Regions from separate parts of the Homo sapiens genome. Here region 1 is linked to region 2. The links come from fine-mapping of genetic effects on plasma protein levels. A gene starts in region 2. The other region holds a variant in brackets. All regions are shown on one strand. Distances are from middle to middle. Region 1 overlaps FBLN2 (fibulin 2). Region 2 holds the start of FBLN2 (fibulin 2).

What was found. PIP is the chance, under the fine-mapping model, that this variant and not a neighbour inherited with it causes the effect. The UK Biobank Pharma Proteomics Project read protein levels with antibody pairs (Olink). The fine-mapping took linkage between variants from a reference panel, not from the people measured, so its PIPs are less certain.
Region 1: its variant is fine-mapped to the plasma level of the FBLN2 protein (UK Biobank, PIP above 0.99).

Annotation. Positions count from the first base shown.
Region 1 is chr3:13,569,502-13,572,357 of GRCh38, reverse strand. It overlaps FBLN2 (fibulin 2), which reads right to left. Exons shown (of 18, transcript NM_001004019.2): 2 at 697-2,043. The coding sequence starts at 2,002. Among named protein-coding and RNA genes, the nearest start is that of FBLN2, 22 kb to the right of the region's middle. RefSeq lists enhancers at 173-889, 2,494-2,856. The variant A/G (reference allele first, on the strand shown) is at 2,008.
Region 2 is chr3:13,548,502-13,551,348 of GRCh38, reverse strand. FBLN2 (fibulin 2) reads right to left here and starts at 2,224. Exons shown (of 18, transcript NM_001004019.2): 1 at 2,141-2,224. RefSeq lists enhancers at 1-252, 253-861.

The sequences.
Region 1 (2,856 bases), 21 kb before region 2:
GGAAGGACTGATGGGAAGCTGCCTGACCAGCTCGGAGAGGGGCCTCCATGGAGTGAGGGTACAGCTGGTGTGGCCCCACCACCTCCACTGGCCCAGCATGGCCAGCGCCCCTGCTCAAATGGCCCACCCACCTCGCCTCTGTCCACGAGTTCACTTCTTTCTACAACACATGCTTGTGAGATTAGGATTTGCTGCAGACACTTAGAAATGGGAAGATGTCACATAAAATTCAGCTTTCTGGCTGACATTTGTTGAAAAATTGGCAGAGGTGGCCATGCTAGGCTCCTAGGCCACAGGCCAGCCACCGGGGCAGCTGAGAAGAGACCGCCCTTCGCATTTCCTGCCAGGACACGTGGGGGCCTACCGGGCTGAGGCAGGAACCCTCCTCAGGGCCCCCAGCTCTGAAGATGTGCACCTTCTGGACCCTTGACCACTACCGCAGCCCTACCAGGGGGCCCAGCACCTCCCACAACAGGAACCCCACTCCCACCCACCCATCCCATCCCAAGAGCTGGGCCTGGGAGAAGATGCACTCTCACAGCCTCCTGCCCAAACCAAGGGCCTGGGGTGGCCACCCTAGGCCTGGCCCCACAGTCCAGCATCCCCAGCCCCAGGCAGAGACCTGGGGCAGCGGCCAGAGCCCAAGGCTGCCCTTCCCACACAAAGTGCCCTGAAGGAACCAGGACAGGGTCTTACCTTCAGGGCTACTTCTGGGGATAGAATGGACAGAGTTGGGGTCTGTGTCCTCCTCCACGTGGGAATGGGGCAGAACTTGCGGCTTCCTGGGCACTTCTCGGGTGGGTGGGATCCAGGCTGCATCAGGCAGTGATGTGGACAGGATGTTGTGGGGGCTGGGCTTGACTGGGTCCCTGGGAGAGCCAGGCACGGCCTGAGTTGGGACGAGAGCAGCCTTGCCCAGGCTCGGTGCATGCGTCACGCCCTCCGGCCCAGTGCTGCGGGACGTGGCTTGGGCATCCAGGATGAGGTTCTCTTCAGGCCTTGCCCCAGCTTCTGCCCTTGCCCCAGCTTCTGCCCTCTCCTCCTGGATAGGAAGACTGGGTCCAGCTGGGGCTGTAGTGGGCAGCCCATCCAGCCCCCTGTGGCCACCTGCTGCCAGCTGCTCAGTGACAGCCATTTCCTCTCTCTCCTCCTCCTCCTCTTCTTCCTCCTCACTGTCCTCGGTCACTCTCCTAGCTTTGGCCTGCACTGGGGCTGGGGGACCCAGGGCAGCAGCCGCTGTGGGCCTGGGGAGGACAGCTGGCCAGGGGGGTGCCTGGATGGTGGACAGTGGCTGACTCCCACCTCCCAGAGCAGCTGGGGGGCCCCCTGCGCCTGCCTGGACTGCACCCGCCTGGACCTCACCCCCCAGGGCTGTTGCTGCTTCCACCTCGGCCACCTCCTGGTCATAGCTGTAGGGGTCTTCGTAGTGTCGCTCGGGGTCACCCTCCTCGGCATCTGAGAAGTTCCCGTGGCAACCGGGGAGCTGGTAGCAGATGAGCTCTCCACCGGCGTCAGGGCAGTGGCAGGCCCGGCAGGGCGGCAGGTGAACAGTGTGGCCAGCGGCGTACTTGTGGCCCGCGTGGACGCAGCCCACCTGGCCGCACTGTGGGCAGCTGTCAGCCACCACTACAGCCTCGATGCAGTTGGGCGGCAGCTCCGGGCACAGCATGAACTGGCAGCTGATCTTGCCGCCGCCTGGTGGGCAGGAGCACTCAGTGCTCCCGAAGTCCACAAAATAGGACTGACCGGCGGGCACGCGGCCGCGCACGAAGCCACCCTGTAGGCAGTCATAGTACTGGTAGCCCTCGCAGGCGCAGCCCTGCTGCACACACGTGGCACAGCAGGCACCCGGCTCCAGCGCCTCCTCAATGCAGTTCTCCAGCGGCGGGCACTCCACGCCCGTGCAGTCCTGCCGAGGGGCAGCTGCGGCCACGCTGGGGCCCAGGGCCAGGGCCAGGCCCAGAGCAAGCCAGGCTCCTGCAGGCTCCCAGAGCAGCACCATGGTCC[A/G]GGCCAGCCCAGGACGGTCCCCTCTCCTGTAAGACCCTGGGGGAATCAGAAAGGAAGCCTGTCAGTACTGGGTGTGCACACACAGACACGGTGCACACCGGCACGCACGCGGGCAGGGGCCCAGCCTCAGCCACCTCACACGCATGCGCTCATCCCCAGGAGCACACTAAGCACTGCCTCACACACACACACAGGCTCCGCCACACATGGGTCAGATCACACACAGGTGAGTGTCTAGTCGCTGGGCGCCACAGGTGTTGACCTGGAGTCGCTGACAGCCCCACACGTGTTTGCTGGGCCACTCCATCCTCCATCCTCACCTGCATTCTGAGGCAGGTCCTCTGAGTGAGCCCTCGTGCCCACACACACACATGCACAGCCCCACACCCACTCGGTCACACTCACCAGGGCACGTCAGGCAATATGCCCCATAATCCTCTATGCAGTTACACACGCTGTCTCACCCACAGCATGCCCACGTGCCAGTACACACCCTGGGCGGTCTCACACGCACAGTCCCACGCACACACCCGACCAATCCCTCCCCCCAGATCCTTGACTCAGTCCCCAGCCACGCACCACAGCTGCTGGCCAGAAAATACAGTCAGTGGGGAAATGCTAGGCAAGAACAAGACGCCCCCTACAGCCCCAGCCCGCAGACCCTAGGACTCAGGAACACACCTCTGAGACCCTCGGGACTGCAGGCTTAGCCCCAGGGGACGCTCCTGTCCCCCTCCCCAGTAGCACTGGCAAATGCATCCTGATGCCTTGCTGTCCCTAACACCCCACCAACTCCCCCAGTCATGTCCATTCTCCCCGCAATCTGTCTCCACTCCCTCCCCACGGTCT
Region 2 (2,847 bases):
ACCGTCCCCCACAGCCTAGCAGGAAGTGTCTGCCACCATCACAAAGATGCCCTGTGGCCCAGGGCCCTGGGCACCACTCATTGCTTCAACGACTAAGGCCTCGAAGGGTAGGAGGCCCGCCCAGGGCTTCCCCAGCCATGCATGGAGGACCAGCCTGGGCCTATGCTTGAGGCGGGCAATGGAGCAAAATCAGCCCAATGCATGCAGCAGTCACAGCCGCACAAAGGCCACGCAGGCCAGGCAGGAGCTGAGAAGGCATGAGAGGGCCAGGTGGGGACGGGGACCAAACAGCGCCCCTGCCCCATCCCCTGGGTTGGGGGTGGGCAGCACCAGCCAGGAGATGCAGATCCTGAACTACCAGACCTTGTGACTTTTCAAGAGAAGACGGAAATCCGGACTTTTACGTGAAAACTGCCAATTTGTAAATGCAGGCAGCTAATTAATTTTTTAAAATAATAATAACATGGTGAGAGCCAAACAAAACATGCAGGGCCAGCCACAGCCGGGGCTGGCAGGTTTGTGCCTCCAGAATAAGATTCTTTGACTTCATCCCCTGCTCACCCCCATCACACAGCTCAGCTGCAGAAGGGGAGGGCGGGAAGTCAAGGGTGCACCCCAGGGGAGTAGCTCCCCCTCCCTCTCTTCCTCCTGCTGGGGAGTCTTCACCCCATTTGGCATATGGGGAAGTTAAGGCCCAGAGCCCCTATCAGCCACAAACACACACCAGCTCCCAATCCATGCCAGGCTGAGGGAACACTTCTCAGCTGCCACCCAATTCATCAGGGCTCCCTCTGGGAGGGCCCGGACCAGCATCTCAGGGGCATCAGGGTAGACACAAGCACCCAAACCATCCTGTTTGACTTCCCTTTTTCTCTTTTTGGCCTGTCAGGGGACGCCTGCTGGCTCAGGCCTGCTTGGGACTGGCCCAAGTGATCACTGCAAAGCTGATATGGGCAACTCCTTGTGGCAGCAAAAAAGGGAGGGAGGGCACCCCTATTTCGGAGACTGGAGCAGGGGAAGGGAGAGAGGATGCACGGAGGTGAGGAGTCAGGCCCAGCCTGAGGCTGAGCCACCCCCATGCTCCCCACAGCCACCCAGGTCCCATGGTAAGCAGCCTCTGTCAGGAGGAACCACCTCCCTCCTCCAAAATCGGCTCCCCACCCCCTAGGACAGGGGAGGACTGCCCATGGAGTGCCAGGGGGGCTGGGACTGTGAAGTCGTGGGGGTCTGTGACTCGTATGTGAGACTCACAGTGTGTGGCACTCCCAGTGTTTGTGATTCCAGGTATTTGAGGAGCACACGCATGTGAGAGACACATGTGTGATACATATGATGGAGATATGCATGTGATAGCTACCCCTGTGTGGCGGACGTGTGTGCGTGTCAGAGGGCAGTAAGGGCACATGTGTTTATCAGAGACACAACTGTCTGCTAGAGGCATGCCTCGGAGGGGTGCCAATGTGCAAGGCATGTGTGTGTGGAGCATTGTGTGCTAAGGGGACGTGAGATGAGTGTGAGAGATTCTGGCCTGGGGGAGCTGGCGGGGTGAGCATGGGGCTGGGAGAGGGAGGATGTGGTGACAGGCAGGGTGGGCGCGCCAATGCAGAGCGTGCAGAAACTTCTGCTTGTGTGAGTGCGTGTGTGGCGGTGAGTGTGACTTGGGGGTGATGGAGGGGGTAGTGTTAGACCAGGGACTCTAGTCTTCTTTCCCCGAGGGGGTTGACCCGGCCCTCTGGACTGGAGGGGCGGCAAGGTCCTGCGGTCGGGGTGGGGGTGGGCAGTGGGACCAGAGGGGATGACTGGTGGGAGCCGGCCCAGGGGGGAGAAGTGAAACCCAGAGCGGAGGAAGCTGCGGACCTGGGGTGGGGGAACCCGCCCGCGGACCCCTGGCCCCCACCCCGCGCCGGCCTCTGTGCCCGCATCTGTACACTGGGTCGCGGCGCTCGCGGGCCGTCCCCGCGCTGGGACCGGGAGAGCGAGACCCGGTCGGACCGGCGGCGCGGGTGGAGGCGCGGGCAGCCCGCGAGGCGCGTCCGAGGGTCCGCCGAGCCGTCGGTGCGTCCGAGCGCCCCCGAGTCCTGAGCTGCGAGGCGCGGACCGACGGGGATGAGTCCGGGCGGGAGGGGCCGCGTGCACTCACCGCGGGGCACTGCGCTCGGCGTCCGTCCGTCCGTCCGCCCGGCCGTCGGCGCGTCGAGAGCCCGGGCGGCCCCTGGCTGTGTGCGCGCGGGGCGGGGCGGAGGCGCGAGAGGCGGGACCAGCCGGCCCCCGGCCCCCTCCCCTGACTCCGCCTCCGCCTCCGGGGCGGGGTCTCGGCCGCCCGCCGGAGAGGGGGCCGGGCCGGCGCCGCTCGCTCAGAGCCCAGACTCGCTGACCCGGCTCCTAGAGGCCGCCCGGCGCGCTCGCTGCGGAGCCCGCACCCTCCCTGCGCCCGGCCTAACCTCTGAGTGCCAGACCTGGCACTGCTGCCCACAGGGCAGGGCCAGGGGTTGGGGTCCGGCCACCTCAGCCAGCCTGAGCCTCAGTGATCACCCCTGGAAGATGGGCCCAGCAGCCTTGGGCACATTGTGAGGGCCTGAGGGGCCCGGCTACAAAACTGCCCAGAGGCCAGGCCCTGCCTCCCACCCGCCTTGCTTCCTACCCTGGGGGCCTGCCTGCAGCCCCACTGCTGCTGCATGTGCCTGGGCAGACGGTACTGAGCCCCCAGCTTTGGAACAGGTTCAGTTTGTCCTTTTCCTCAGCCCAGCTCTGATGCCTGTGACCACTGTGTGACCCCCGGGGTGTCTCTTCCCCCAGCCCACACCGATCCCTTTCTGGGTCTCTTTCGGGGTCTCCATCTCTGATCTA